Linked DNA regions of Homo sapiens: region 1 is linked to region 2. Evidence: fine-mapped expression QTL. A gene starts in region 2. The other region holds a variant in brackets. All regions are shown on one strand. Distances are from middle to middle.

Region 1 (4,389 bases), 810 kb before region 2:
ACACTGTAAAAGTGTTCCTATTTCTCCATATCCTCTCCAGCACATGTTGCTTCCTGACTTTTTAATGATCGCCATTCTAATTGGTGTGAGATGGTATCTCATTGTGGTTTTGATTTGCATTTCTCTGATGGCCAGTGGTGATGAGCATTTTTCCATGTGTCTGTTGGCTGCATAGATGTCTTCTTTTGAGAAGTGTCTGTTCATACCCTTTGCCCACTTTTTGATGGGGTAGTTTGATTTTTTCATATAAATTTGTTTAAGTTCTTTGTAGATTCTGGATATTAGCCCTTTGTCAGATGGGTAGATTGTAAAAATTTTCTCCCATTCTGTAGGTTGTCTGTTCACTCTGATGGTAGTTTCTTTTGCTATGCAGAAGCTCTTGAATTTAATTAGATCTGATTTGTCAATGTTGGCTTTTGTTGCCATTGCTATTGGTGTTTTAGTCATGAATTCCTTGCCCATGCCTATGTCCTGAATGGTATTGCCTAGGTATTCTTCTAGGGTTTTTATGGTTTTAGGTCTAACATTTAAGTATTTAATCCATCTTGAATTAAATTTTATATAAGGTGTAAGGAAGGGATCCAGTTTCAGCTTTCCACATATGGCTAGCCAGTTCTCCCAGCACCATTTATTAAATAGGGAATCCTTTCCCCATTTCTTGTTTATGTCAGGTTTGTCAAAGATCAGATGGTTGTAGATGTGTGGTATTATTTCCGAGGGCTCTATTCTGTTCCATTGGTCTGTATCTCTGTTTTGGCACTAGTACCATGCTGTTTTGGTTACTGTAGCCTTGTAGTGTAGTTTGAAGTCAGGTAGTGTGATTCCTCCTGCTTTGTTCTTTTTGCTTAGGATTGACTTGGCAATGCAGGTTCTTTTTTGGTTCCATATGAACTTTAAAGTTGTTTTTTCCAATTCTGTGAAGAAAGTCATTGGTAGCTTGATTGGGACGGCATTGAATCTATAAATTATCTTTGTCTGTATGGCCATTTTCACGATATTGATTCTTCCTATCCATGAGCATGGAATGTTCTTCCATTTGTTTGTGTCCTCTTTTATTTTGTTGAGCAGTGGTTTGTAGTTCTCCTTGAAGAGGCCCTTCACATCCCTTGTAAGTTGGATTCCAAGGTATTTTATTCTCTTTGAAGCAATTGTGAATGGGAGTTCACTCATGATTTGGCTCTCCGTTTTTGTGTTATTGGTGTATAGGAATGCTTGTGATTTTTGCACATTGATTTTGTATCCTGAGAGTTTGCTGAAGTTGCTTATCAGCTTAAGGAGATATTGGGCTGAGATGATGGGGTTTTGTGAATATACAGTCATGTCATCTTCAGACAGGAACAATTTGACTTCCTCTTTTCCTAATTGAATACCCTTTATTTCATTCTCTTGCCTGATTGACCTGGCCAGAACTTCCAAGACTATGTTGAATAGGAGTGGTGAGAGAGGGAATCGTTGTCTTGTGCCAGGTTTCAAAGGGAATGCTTCCAGTTATTGTCCATTCAATATGATATTGGCTGTGTTTTTGTCATAAATAGCTCTTATTATTTTGAGATACATCCCATCAATACCTAGTTTATTGAGAGTTCTTAGCATGAAGGGCTGTTGAATTTTGTCAAAGGTCTTTTCTGCATCTATTAAGATAATCATGTGGTTTTTGTCTTTGGTTCTGTTTATATGATGTATTACGCTTATTGATTTGCGTATGTTGAACCAGTCTTGCATCCTAGGGATGCCAAGTTGATCGTGGTGGATAAGCTTTTTGATGTGCTGCTGGATTCAGTTTGTTAGTATCTTATTGAGGATATTTGCATCAATGTTCATCCGGGATATTGGTCTAAAATTCTCTTTTTTTGTTGTTGTGTCTGTCAGGCTTTGGTATCAGGATGATGTTGGTCTCATAAAATGAATTAGGGAGGATTCTATCTTTTTCTATTGATTGGAAAAGTTTCAGAAAGAATGATACCAGCTCCTCTTTGTACCTCTGGTAGAACTCAGCTGTGAATGCATCTGGTCCTGGACTTTTTTTTGGTTGGTGGGCTATTAATTATTGCCTCAATTTCAGAGCCTGTTATTGGTCTATTCAGAGATTCAACTTCTTCCTGGTTTAGTCTTGCAAGGGTGTATGTGTCCCAGAATTTATCCATTTCTTCCAGATGTTCAAGTTTATTTGTGTATAGGCGTTTATAGTATTCTCTGATGGTAGTTTTTATTTCCCTGGGCTCAGTGGTGATATCCCCTTTATCATTTTATTGCATCTATTTGATTCCTCTCTCTTTTCTCTTTATTAGTCTTGCTAGCAGTCTATCAATTTTGTTGATCTTTTCAAAAAACAAGCTCCTGGATTCATTGCTTTTTTGAAGGGTTTTTTGTGTCTCTGTCTCCTTCAGCTCTGCTCTGATCTTATTTTTTCCTTCTGCCAGCTTTTGAATGTGTTTGCTTTTTCTTCTCTAGTACTTTTAATTGTGATGTTAGGGGGTCAATTTTAGATCTTTCCTGCTTTCTCTTCTGGGCATTTAGTGCTATCAATTTCCCCCTACACACTGCTTTAAATGTGTCCCAGAGATTCTGGTACATTGTGTCTTTGTTCTCATTGGTTTCAAAGAACATCTTTATTTCTGCCTTCATTTTGTTATTTACCCAGTAGTCATTCAGGAGCAAATTGTTCAGTTTCCATGTAGTTGTTCAGTTTTGAGTGAGCTTCTTAATCCTAAGTTC[G/C]AATTTGATCGCACTGTGGTCTGAGAGACAGTCTGTTGTGATTTCTGTTCTTTTACATTTGGTGAGGAGTGCTTTACTTCCAATTATGTGGTCAAATTTAGAATAAGTGAGATGTGGTGCTGAGAAGAATGTACACTCTGTTGATTTGGGGTGGAGAGTTCTGTGGATGTCTATTGGGTCTGTTTGTTGCAGAGCTGAGTTCAGGTCCTGGATATCTTTGTTAACCTTCTGCCTTGTTGATCTTTCTAATATTGACAGTTGGGTGTTAAAGTCTCCCATTATTATTGTGTGGGAATCTAAGTCTCTTTGTAGGTCTCTAAGGACTTGCTTTATGAATCTGGGTGCTCTTGTATTAGGTGCATATATATTTAGGATAGTTAGCTCTTCTTGTTGCATTGATCCCTTTACCATTATGTAATGGCCTTCTTTGTCTCTTTTGATCTTTGTTGGTTTAAAGTCTGTTTTATCAGAGACAAGGATTGCAACCCCTGCCTTTTTTTGTTTTCCATTTTCTTGGTAGATCTTCCTCCATCCCTTTATGTTGAACCTATGTGTGAATTTGCGCATGAGATTGGTCTCCTGAATACAGCACACTGATGGGTCTTGACTCTTTATCCAATTTGCCAGTCTGTGTCCTTTAATTGGGGCATTTAGCCCATTTATGTTTACAGTTAATATTGTTATGTGTGAATTTGATCCTGTCATTATGATATTCGCTGGTTATTTGCCCGTTAATTGATGTAGTTTCTTCCTAGCATTGATGTTCTTTACAACTTGGCATGTTTTTGCACTGGCTGGTACCGGGTGTTTCTTTCCATGTTTAGTGCTTCCTTCAGGAGCTCTTGTAAGGCAGGCCTGGTGGTGACAAAATCTCTCAGCATTTGCTTGTCAGTAAAGAATTTTATTTTCTCCTTCACTTATGACGCTTAGTTTGGCTGGATATGAAACTCTGGTTTGAAAATTATTTTCTTTAAGAATGTTGAATATTGGCCCCCACTCTCTTCTGGATTGTAGGGTTTCTGCCAAGAGATCAGCTGTTAGTCTGATGGGCTTCTCTTTGTGGCTAACCTGACCTTTCTCTCTGGCTGCCCTTAACACTTTTTCCTACACTTCAACCTTGGTGAATCTGACAATTATGTGTCTTGGAATTGCTCTTCTCAAAGAGTATCTTTGTGTTGTTCTCTGTATTTCCTGAAGTTGAATGTTGGCCTGCCTTGCTAGATTGGGGAAGTTCTCCTGGATAATATCCTACAGAGTGTTTTCCAACTTGGTTCCATTCTCCTCATCACTTTCCGGTACACCAATCAAATGTAGATTTGGTCTTTTTACATGGTCTCATATTTCTTGGAGGCTTTCTTCATTTCTTTTTACTCTTGTTTCTCAACCTTGTCTTCTCACTTTATTTCATTTATTTGATCTTCAATCACTGATACCCTTTCTTCCACTTGATTGAATCGGCTATTGAAGCTTGTGCATGCGTCACAAAGTTCTCATGCCATGGTTTTCAGCTCCATTGGGTCACTTAAGGTCTTCTCTACACTGTTTATTCTTGTAAGCCTTTCGTCTAATCTTTTTTCAAGGTTTTTAGCTTCCTTGCAATGGGTTCCAACGTCCTCCTTTAGCTCGGAGAAGTTTCTTATTACCAACCTTCTGAAGCCTACTTCTGTCAACTCG
Region 2 (4,389 bases):
CATCTATTGCCTAAGAGCACAGCGGGAGGGACAATGATCGGGATAGAAACCCAGGCATTGGAGCCGGCAACAGCTACCCACTTTGGGTCCCCTCCCTTTGCATGGGAGCTGTGTTTTCATTCTATTAAATCTTGCAACTGCACTCTCTTCTGGTCCGTGTTTGTTACGGCTTGAGCTGAGCTTTCGCTCGCTGTCCACCGCTGCTGTTTGCGGCCTTCGCAGACCCGCCGCTGACTTCCATCCCTCCGGATCTGGCAGGGTGTCCGCTGTGCTCCTGATCCAGCGAGGTGCCCATTGCTGCTCCCAAGTTGGGCTAAAGGCTTGCCATTGTTCCTGCACAGCTAAGTCCCAGGTTGGTCCTAATCGAGCTGAACACTAGTCACTGGGTTCCACAGTTCTCTTCCGTGACCCACGGCTTCTAATTGAGCTATAACACTCACCACATAGCCCAAAATTCCATTCCTTGTAATCCATGAGGCCAAGAACCCCAGGTCAGAGAACATGAGGCTTGCCCCCATCTCGGAAGCAGCCCACCACCATCTTGGGAGCTCTGGGAGCAAGGACCCCCGGTGACAATATCCTTGATTGGTTGCTGGAACAGAAAAAGGGCATTAGTGGAAGAACTGCTTAAGTCTGAATAAACTCTGCAGTTCAGTTAATAGTACTTGTACCTATGTTATTTTCTTAGTTTTGATAAATATACCATGGTCATGTAAAATACTAACACTAGTGGAATCTGGGTGAAAGGCATATAGGAACTATTTTGCAACTCTTCTGTAAATCTGAAATTATGAGCAAATGAAAAGTTTAAAAAAGTGGACAATGACCCAGGAGTTGATTTTTTAAATGAAAAGTTGTAACACACGCACATGCTCATAGTGTGCTGAAAATGCCAGATGTGCACGTAAAAGAATGTACGTGTAGTGTAGTTCTGGGTAAAGTATGGTTGGTTTTGGGAAATGAGTGCGTGCTTTCTTCTTCAAATTTGTTACTCAAACGGCTTTTTTTTTTTTAAACATATAAACAATTTTATGTTTGGGTCTTGAATTGCTAGCTTCTGTTTTTCCTTATTCCAGAGAATAACCATACTGGTCACAGATTTTAGTTTTCTCTTCCAGTCTTTCAGTTAAACGTTACCATGCATGATCGTGAATGAATTCAAGCACACCTTTCCTTCTCTTGGCTTGTGTCTAACAGGCACATTGATTTGATCCACAACCTCTGGGGACACTGACAGAATCCTGGTTCCAAGCAGGAGTGGGTAACTGAGACAGTAATCTCTCAACCCACTATACAAGGCTGTTTTGCAGGAGAGCCTTATGATGACCAGCATGATATATAATTGTGAGAAATATACTGAACAATTTATGTGTCAGACACCGGTTTAAATGCTTTTACAACGTAAGCGCCTCCAATTCTCATAAAACCCCTGCTAGGTAGGCACTATCAGCCTCATTTTACAACTGAGGGTTGCGGCCAGAGCTGACAGGCACCGTCTAGCGCCGCTTCCAAGCCCCGCATCGCATCCACCAGCCTAACTCGGGCGCTCGGCCTCTCCCTCTGCGCATGTGCATCCCCGCCTCCCGCTCCAGGCGAGTCCTTCCCTGGACTCCAGTCCCTTGTGGGAAACAATCCCTCGCCTCCGGAGGCGGCGAGGAGCGGCGGGTGAGCCCCGGAGCACTGGGCGAGGGCCAGGGGGTCCCCGCGCTGCCCTGAAGGCGGGCGGGCGGCGGCTAGACCTCGGCGGTGGGGAGGGACCCCTGGCGCCTGCGGCGACGGTGGGACGAGGGCGTCTCTGTCAGAAGGGGATGAGGTCTGGCGTGGGAACGCGAGTTCCGGGGCTCCCGGGGGTCCGTATGCGTCCAGTCCCTGCGCCTGGCGCTCAGCGAAGTCCTGTAGCACGGGGTAGGCAATGCGCACTGGCCCGAAGGGGAGGGAACTGGCTGCGGGGAGGGGACAGCACGCGCGTGCGTAGCGTGTGACGTTTGTTGTGCGCGTGCGCATGGCGTTTGATGTGTGCGTGTGCGCTTTTTGTGCCCTGAGCCCGCGGGGAGGAGGCGGGGCTGCGGGGGAGAGCGACTGCGCCAGGTCCGCGACAAATGAATTAGACACAATTATCCACGGGAGACTCGGTTTTCCTCTCTGTAAATTACGGATATTAGGAATACTTGCCGCCTGGGGTTGTTTTGAGCACTTTCATTGTTTAGGTGCTGTATTTATTGGGTGTGCGTTCCCTGGGAGAGCCCGAGGGAGACGGCTCCTGCACCGGCCCCAAGGGCCTCTCTGCCCGTGGAGTGCAGGAGCGAAGGGGCTGGCCTAGCTGACCACCAGGGCCCCTGCTGGCTCTGACCGCCCTCCTATCCCAAGTAATTATTTACACGTTTCGCGTTCGCTTATGTATTATGTGTAATCATGGCACAGTATCCTGAAGCCGTCGGAGTCTGTGTGCTGGTGCAAGGTCTGGGACAAATTTAAGAAGAGAGAGGTGAGCTGGAGCTGAGGGGTGGGCGCGCAGGCTAACAGGAACGTCACCTCTGGAGAGTCTGAGGGCAGGGACGGGTGAAAGGCTCACGGCCACAGCGAAAGAAATGCTGTTATCACCCCTCCGCGAACACCGGGCACATCCAGATGAGCTGCTGAGCTTCCTCCTCTCTTGGCCTGATATCCCCGCCGGATGGTAGTGCAGTCAGGTCATACTTGGGTTATCTGTTTTGACCTTATTTGAAAGATGGAAAAACAAAATTGAGTTTGAGGAGGTGAGTAGTTCAGATCTTGTCATTCCTTAGAGGCAGAACTGAGATTAGAAGTCAAGTCTGCAGTTTCCCGAGCCACTGCTGCCCATTTTGTTACTCTATATCACAGTTTCTCATTAAAAGATCCTTTTGAGGAATTGTTAGCAAGTTAGAACAAACATTTTTAAACTTGCATTTAACATCCTATCCCTTTTTTTAGAGGTCTTTTGCATTATCTAACCTCAGGGCATTAATGGTGTTAACAGGTAAACAGATAAACAATATGGCCTCAGTTTTTTTTTTTCCCTACAAGGAATTTTGACAAACCCATAGTGTTTTTTCCTTCAGATTACTGTTAACTTGTTAAACTCATCTTTTCATGTTTTTAATTTTTCTGTGTCACAGAACCTAAATTGGTAATAAATCAATAAGAAATATTTACATTCACTCAGTGAAAAGTGTCATGTCTGAGCTCAGCATATATCGGAGCCACACATGGACACGTAAGTATCTTGTGTGTGGACCTGTATAGGCAGGTGAATCTCCGAACTGCAAGGCCGGCGAAGGCTCTCCTGACATTCTTCCTTTCTAATCCTTCAGCTCTCCTTCCTCCACTAAGAGCGGAAAATGAACAAATCCCAGGTGAGATTCTTGTTTCTTTATTCCCAGTTTGTTTAAAAATGGATTTCTGAAGTTTATAAGGGTTTATGTTTTGAAAATGGAAAAATAGAAATAGGCAAAAATTGACATTAAGGGAAATAAAACTGAAGTAGCAAATCCAAAATAGTGCAGTTGGCAAATTAGATGCAGGATTTTTAATTTTGCAGAATTATCCAAGTTATTGTAATATTATCTCTAATTGTTCTAGTAACAATTCTGAAATAAATGCAGTAAATTGTCTATAAGTATTTCTTTGTAGAAACAAAGAACACAGTTACAGAGCAGAACTCAGTGCATATGCTTTTCAGGAGAACAAACGCTGAGGTTTGATGGTCCTGTTTGATCCAGGAATAAAACCTTGACGATGTGGAGGAATGGAGGGACTGCATGTCCTCAAAACAGTTTTCCCTAACTGTTTGTGTCAGCTCGTTCTTATTTCTAGGTTGAATCACTGACAGTTCCGACTTGTTTCTGTGTTTCTCATTTATGTTTCAATCTGATGAATGCAACCTTATTCCCTCACCTAAACTCACCTGAATCAGTTCTGGCAAAGGCCACCAAATCATAGTCAAGGCTAGTGCATGTTTTTGCCTTTGCATTACTTGCCTGGTCTGCTGCATATATTGTTAACCATGGTCTTTGTTTGGAGAGTCTCCTCTGTTGGTGTCTGTAATGCCACCCTCTGAGCTGTCCTTTCCTAACTTTGATTCCCTCCCTAGTCCTCATGAAGGCATCTTTTCTTTTTGCTCCAGGCATTGCTTATGCGTGCATTTCCATCCTTAGCCTACTTAGGTTCTTCTCGGTCTGTTTTTCCTGACTGGTTTCATTTTTTTTCCTTAATAAAGTGCTTTTGAATTAATAATACATTAATGTAATAATACATTACTTTTACTTTTTTAAAAGTATAAGTGATAACAAAAGATGTACATATATATTCACACTCCCTTCCTCTGTTCATGCAGTTTCTCCAGGTAGGGTGACATTTAATCATTAAAAC

Evidence for each region. PIP is the estimated chance that this variant, and not a neighbour inherited with it, causes the effect.
Region 1: its variant is fine-mapped to the expression of ZNF248 in lung (TOPMed, PIP above 0.99).

Annotation. Positions count from the first base shown.
Region 1 is chr10:38,660,334-38,664,722 of GRCh38, reverse strand. It overlaps the pseudogene SLC9B1P3. Among named protein-coding and RNA genes, the nearest start is that of LINC00999, 230 kb to the right of the region's middle. The variant G/C (reference allele first, on the strand shown) is at 2,716.
Region 2 is chr10:37,855,281-37,859,669 of GRCh38, reverse strand. It overlaps ZNF248 (zinc finger protein 248), which reads left to right and starts at 2,060. Exons shown (of 6, transcript NM_021045.3): 1 at 2,060-2,485; 2 at 3,138-3,235; 3 at 3,333-3,374. The coding sequence starts at 3,360. It overlaps ZNF248-AS1 (ZNF248 antisense RNA 1), which reads right to left and starts at 1,921. Exons shown (of 2, transcript NR_186559.1): 1 at 1,169-1,921; 2 at 1-592. RefSeq lists silencers at 1,568-2,117, 1,814-2,190 and an enhancer at 2,508-2,567.